2 linked regions of the Homo sapiens genome follow. The protein of the gene in region 1 purifies or fractionates together with the protein of each later gene. This does not show direct contact. Each region holds a gene or a part of one and is shown on either strand. Other genes may lie near its edges.

Region 1 (3,500 bases):
CCACATATTTGGAGCTCCTCTAAGCCAGTTTCTGGAGATACTCTAAGATATGGTTGGATTTTCTGAGAATGAAATGTTTTATACTTTATGAGGAACCCAACCAGACAAAGAAGTTTACTATGAGTCTCTTCCCTTATTCCAAGGACTTTGATTTCTGATGTTTGCCTCCATATTGTGTAACTGTAGCACCATGGAAAACACAATACATGTATTATTGTAGTAACATTACAGAGTTTTATCAAGAATCTCTGGAAAATAGATAATTTTGTTGTTTGTATACTGTCAGAATAATTTTAATAATGTACGATTCAGTAATTTTAAACAGGGAATCTGGCTGAATTAAATGCAGGTAAAACATAGTTACTCATATCCCATAGATAAGCCAAATAAGATATCCCATAAATGTCTTAAAACTTATAAACTATAATGGTTAGGTTCAACAATTGTTTATAAGGGACTGCAGTGGACCCTTTAAATTGAACTTCAGTGATTTGTCCATATGTACAAGAGCATCAAAATCCAGGGTCTCATTTCATGACAGCGTGTCTAGAAACTCATCTTACTAAGAATACAGAAGACTCTGAAAAGGTTGTCTTGTGATGCTTGAAACATATTCATAGTTGATTTATGCCAGAAAAGGGGACACTGAAAGTATTGTCATCAGCAGTTACGGGCTTCCTCTTCCAGTTAAGCTGTGGTACATCTCTCCGACACACACTGTACTTGACAACACTTGTGGTACATCAGTCTTGTTTGACAATTTTGTTCATCTCCCTTTTTTCTTTATATTAAGATGATCATCCATCTTACAGAAGCACCCATAGATTAATATTGTTATGAAAACATTCCTTATGTTTAGCTGACTCCTTGTAGACAAGCAGTCATTTTCATGTTTCCATTGACTTATTTCCAAATTACATTGCAAAGGAGATTATTTTTTTCCAACACGGGAAATTAACTTGATATTAATAGTATGGAGGCTCTTGTGTGCTTTCATAAGATAAGGCCTTTATTTATCTGCCTCCTGAAAGTGACCTGGGGCACTTCAGCCTAGTCTTGAAGTACATATTCTTTTGGGCCTCTGCAATCGCATGTTCATATTTTGAATCTAGTAACAGAAGACAAAATAGGAATTTATTTTTATTTTTATTTATTTATTTATTTATTTATTTATTTATTTTAAAGACGGAGTCTTGCTCTGTCTGAGCGGTTCAAGCAATTTTCCTGCCTCAGCCTCCCTAGTAGCTGGGATTACAGGTACACGTTGCCATGCCTGGCTAATTTTTTGAATTTTAGTAGAGACGGGGTTTCGCCGTGTTGTCCAGGCTGGTCTTGAACTCCTGAGTTCAGGCAATCTGCCTGCCTCGGCCTCCCAAAGTGCTAGGATTACAGGCATGAGCCAACCGCACCCAGCCAGGAATTCTTTTTGAGTGCTTTAATTTTTGGTCTTTAGAATTCTAGTGCTCAAGTTATGAAATGGAGGAGAATGTCTATTTTTACACTGAGTAACTCACACATTCCTTCTCAATGAGGGAAAAAACATACTTGTCTAAAAAGATATATACTAATTCATTATATGTGTTAATAATGAAAATAGTAGAACATGTCTGAGAATGCCTTTTCAAGGCCTGCATAGGGATGGAAATCTGAATTAAGCTTTGGAATTGCAAACGTCAGAATTGAGACTGCATTGATAAGCAGAAAAGCAAATAATGCTGACCTGAGATCTTCAACCTTCTCTCCTGTGGCTTTCATGAGTCTTGAAAGGAGACTGGTGCTTACTAAGACCACTGATTTGTACTAAGGAGCGTTTGCATCTGGTGTCTTCCCTTGTGCTGAAATAGCTCTGAGTAAATGCTTTGATTCCCTCATGATACTTATGGGACTTTTTTTCTAATGTGTCTTTTCCTATGTCTAAAAAGATTTGAGCTCTGACTAAAGGCTTTGCCACAGTCATGACACTTGTAGGGCTTCTCACCAGTATGGGTTCGTCGATGCTGAATCAGAATTGCGCTTCGGCTGAATGCCTTTGCACACTCGTCACATGCATAAGGTTTCTTTCCACTGTGGATTCTCTGATGTAAAATAAGGGCTGAGCTCTGACTAAAGATTTTGCCACATTCATCACATTTCTGTTGTTTTTTCCAAGAAGGGTTTCCTTGTCTCTTTTCAAACCTACCATCTTGTTCATAGGTTCCTCTATATGTGGAACTCTGGGAGCCATTCATATGAAGGATATTGGAAACATTGCAATGCAGTTCTATGCCTAAAGAAGTCTTTTGCCTTGAAGCAGATTTCACATTTGTAGTTTTGATGTCTTCATCTGAAATGGAAAAACAAATGTCACCAGGAAAGAGAAAGGATGATCCAAATGAAATATACATGATTATTGCTAGCATGTTTATAAAACAACACACAATGTGAAGGACGGAGAGTGTAAGACAAAATATTGAGAAGTTTATATAAGACATAGAGAAAGGTTTACATACTGAGGAGGCAGTCAACTAAACTGTAAAGTTGCAAAGTTCTATGGAAAAGACAGAATAGGGAATAAGGATAAAAAGATATGTCAGAGACTAAGGAAAGTCTGGAAGGAAAGAAAGGGCTTAGAAAGAAGAAATGATTGGAGACACAGAGAGCTAGAAGGAGAGGAATCCAATGTGCCAGTGGGAGTAACAAACAAGATTTAGTACTGGAGTATCAATAAATAAATAAAGCTTAATATTCATAAAGGAATCAGTAACTATGCAAAGAAATGAGCTGAAGAAAGCCAAGGGGCCAAAAAGGAATGTGGAAAATAAAGTAAGAAAATATAAGTTAGGCCAATAAAGGGAAGATTATAGACTAGGATAACTAGTACCTCAAAAGATCAAGGGTAGCAGAGTACCCACTGATGAAAAACCTCTACTCCTGTATGGATTTTATATTACTGGTTGAATCGCTGTTTGTTGTATTATTTTGTATTACATTTAACATCCATGAAAAACGTACATGGCTGCTTATGGGCTGCGGCCACTCAGGCGGCACACAAACCTGGCTTGATGCAGAGGGCCTTATGACTCAGGGTGCCTAAAGCTCCAGCAGAACTGCTAACTCAGATGTGAAAATGCCAGTGTAATGTGGTTGCATTACCTGAAGAAATCACTTCAGTTATCCTCATGGTGGCATTTTTTTTTTTTTTTTTTTTTTTTTTGAGACGGAGTCTCGCTCTGTCGCCCAGGCTGGAGTGCAGTGGCGGGATCTCGGCTCACTGCAAGCTCCGCCTCCCGGGTTCACGCCATTCTCCTGCCTCAGTCTCCCAAGTAGCTGGGACTACAGGCGCCCGCCACTACGCCCGGCTAATTTTTTGTATTTTTTAGTAGAGACGGGGTTTCACCGTTTTAGCCGGGATGGTCTCGATCTCCTGACCTCGTGATCCGCCCGCCTCGGCCTCCCAAAGTGCTGGGATTACAGGCGTGAGCCACCGCGCCCGGCCCATGGTGGCATTTTAACTGAAGCTG
Region 2 (3,500 bases), on another chromosome or scaffold:
CATCAATTTTCAACATGAAAGTGAAACAAAGATATTTTCAGAAAGTTTTCCCCACAGAAGCTCTCTTTGACAAAACTCTTGAAGGATGTATTCTAGCAAAAAGAAAAACAAATGTAGGAGAAAACAGTAAGAAGTCGGTGCATGAGGCTGAGCACAGTGGTTCACACCTGTTACCCCAGCACTTTGGGAGGCCTAGATGGGCAAATCACTTGAGGTCAGGAGTTCAACACCAGCCTGGCCAACATCATGAAACCCCGTCTCTACCAAAAAATACAAAAATTAGGCTGGGTGTGGCAGCATGCACCTGTAGTTTCAGCTACTGGGAGGCTAGGCACCAGAACTGCTTGCACCCAGGAGGCGGAGGCTGCAGTGAGCCAAGATTACGTCACTGCACTCCAGCCTCAGAGTGACACCCTGTCTCAAAAAAAAAAATGTAGGTGCATGAAATTTTAGGCGAGCCTGGGCGCAGTGGCTCACGCCTGTAATCCCAGCACTTCGGAAGGCGGAGGTGGGCAGAACACGAGCTCAGGAGATCAAGACCATCCTGGCCAACATGGTAAAACCCTGTCTCTACTAAAAATACAGAAATTAGCCGGGCCTGGTGGTGTGTGCCTGTAATCCCAACTACTCTGGAGGCTGAGGCAGGAGAATTGCTTGAACCCGGGAGGCAGAGGTTGCAGTGAGCTTAGATCGCACCACTGTACTCCAGACTGAGCAACAGAGTGAGACTCTGTCTCGAAAAAACAAAACAAAATAAGGAAACAACAACAACAAAAATTAGCTGGATGTGGTGGCATGTGACTGTAGTCCCAGCTACTCAGGAGGCTGAGGTGGGAGGATCACTGGAGCCCAGGAGACAAAAGTAGAAGTAAACCGAGATTACATCACTGCATTCCAGCCTGGGCGACAGATTGAAACCGTGTCTTACAAAATAATAATAATAATAAAAAAAGGAGCAGGCCGGGCACAGTGGCTCACGCCTGTAATCCCAACACTTTGGCAAGCCGAGGCGGGCGGATCACCTGAGATCGGGAGTTGAAGACCAGCCTGACCAACATGGAGAACCCTAGTCTCTACTAAAAATACAAAATTAGCCAGATGTGGTGGCGCATGCCTGTAATCCCAGCTACTTGGGAGGCTGAGGCAGGAGAATCGCTTGAAACCAGGAGGCAGAGGCTGCAGTGAGCCGAGATTGCGCCACTGCACTCCAGCCTAGTCAAGAGAAGCGAAATTCCGTCTCAAAAAAACAAACAAACAAACAAAAAAAACTCCAAAAAACAAAACTCCTGTTTCTGGTGGGAATATAAATTGGTACAACTACCATTTCAGCAAATAGTTTAGCATCAGCTAATATAGGTCAAAACATACATACCCTAAGACCCAGCCACTTCCCTTCCAAGAATATATCCTAGGAAAACTCATGTACATGTTGATGTGGATTCTGAACAAGAATGCTCACAGGGGCATTGTTCCTATTGGCCCTAACTGTGGACAACCTCAATATCTACAGGAGAACCAGAAAAATAAACTACACTTAGCCATGTGATGAATATGCAGCAAAATACAGCAGAGAGAGCAATGGAAAGGAATGGGTAACTCCAAGGACAACATGGATGCATTTTACAAACATAATGCTGAGCAAAAGAAACAAGACACACGAAAATAGATACTTTATCATGCTGTTTCCATAACACTCAAAATGTTAGAGGCTGGTGCAGTGGCACATGCCTGTAATCCCAGCTATTTGGGAGGCTGAGATAAGATCCCTTGAGCCCAAAAGTTCAAATCCAGCCTGGGCAACAATGAGACCCCCCACCATCTCTAAAAAAGGAAAAAGCGTGGGTACGATGGCTCATGCCTAAAATCCCACCACTTTGGGAGGCCGAGGTGGGAAGATCATTTGATCCCAGGAATTTGAGACCTATCAGCCTAGGTTGACATAGCAAACTCCCATCTCTCCAAAACAAACAAAAAAAAGAAAGAAAAAAAATTAGCTGGGCATGATGGCATATGCCTGTGGTCCCAGCTTCTCAGGAGGCTGAGGTGGGAGGATTGCTTGAGCCTGGGAGGTCAAGGCTCCAGTGAGCTGAGATCATGACACTGCACTCCAGCTTCGGTGACATAGTGAGATTTTGTCTCTGGAAAAAAAATCTCAAAAATAATAATAAAGGAAAAACTGTTTATGAATGACTAGACAAGTGGTAAGAAAAGCAAAAGTAGGAGAGTCATTACCTTTAGAGGGACAGGAGGAAGAGGATGGGAAGAGCTGCAGAGAGGTCTGCTGGGGTCTTGGCAAAGCTGTGTTTTGCAGAGTGGTTCTCACAAGAGTGTTAGCTTTATATTTATTCATACACTGTACATTTATGTTTTATATACTTCTCTGTATGTGTTTTATATTTGAAAATTTAAAAAACAATTAGAAAAAATAAAGTTGGAAACAATCTGGGTATTTATCACCCAGAAAATATGTAGATAAAGGTACTCACTGCAAATAAGAAAATGCAATGCATGAGTCAAAGGTAATAATTCTATTTATATTTACAGATACATGGAGGGTTCTCAAAACAAGGTTGGGCCAGGCACGGTGGTTCATGCCTGTCATCCCAGCACTTTGGGAGGCCAAGGCAGGCGGATTACTTGAGGTCAGGAGTTTGGGACCAACCTGGCCAACATGGTGAAACCCGTCTCTACTTAAAATAGAAAAATTAGCCAGGCGTGGTGGCAGGCGCCTGTAATCCCAGCTGCTCAGGAGGCTGAGGCAGGAGAATTGCTTGAACCTGGGAGGCAGAGGTTGTAGTGAGCTGAAATTGCACCATTGCACTCCAGCCTGGCGACAGAGCGAGAGTCCGTCTCAAAAAAACAAAAAAGCAAAAAACCCCAAATTAAAAAACCAAAGTTGAACCACAGAGAATACAAAGAGGTTCTGGCAAAATACTGTACATATTTTTTTTTTGTTTTTTTTTTGTTTGTTTGTTTGGTTTTTTTGAGATGGAGTCTCACTCTGTCGCCCAGGCTGGAGTGCAGTGGTGCGATCTCGGCTCACTGCAAGCTCCGCCTCCTGGGTTCACACCATTCTCCTGCCTCAGCCTCCCGAGTAGCTGGGACTACAGGCGCCCACCACCATGCCCGGCTAATTTTTTGTACTTTTAGTAGAGACGGGGTTTCACCATGTTAGCCAGGATGGTCTCGATCTCCTGACCTCGTGATCCGCCCGTCTCGGCCTCCCAAAGTGCTGGGATTACAGGCGTGAGCCACCACGCCCGGCCCACATATTTAAGTTTTGTTTAAACACAAAAATACACATATGAAACAATGCTATGTATTTTTAAAGAATATACAGGTATCCAAATACATCCAACAAAGATGAAGCACAAAGGTCTACACCAGAATTAGAAAGATGTATATACATATGATACACACAATACAGTGGGGGACTAATCGCATAAGAGCAAGTATCAGCAAACTTTTTCTTAAAGGGTCAGATGATAAATATTTTAGGT

The links.
Region 2: the proteins of ZNF396 (region 1) and BCL7B purify together in Homo sapiens (affinity purification with mass spectrometry; one large-scale study listed by BioGRID and IntAct). This does not show direct contact.

The regions. Positions count from the first base shown.
Region 1 is NC_000018.10:35,367,338-35,370,837, forward strand, and holds part of ZNF396 (zinc finger protein 396), read right to left. Parts: intron 2,324-3,500; coding exon 1,878-2,323; 3' UTR 1,109-1,877; coding exon of another isoform or gene 1,014-1,108; 3' UTR 1-1,013. UniProt on the Homo sapiens protein: Isoform 1 and isoform 2 act as DNA-dependent transcriptional repressors.
Region 2 is NC_000007.14:73,547,691-73,551,190, forward strand, and holds part of BCL7B (B-cell CLL/lymphoma 7 protein family member B), read right to left. Parts: intron 1-3,500. UniProt on the Homo sapiens protein: Positive regulator of apoptosis. Plays a role in the Wnt signaling pathway, negatively regulating the expression of Wnt signaling components CTNNB1 and HMGA1.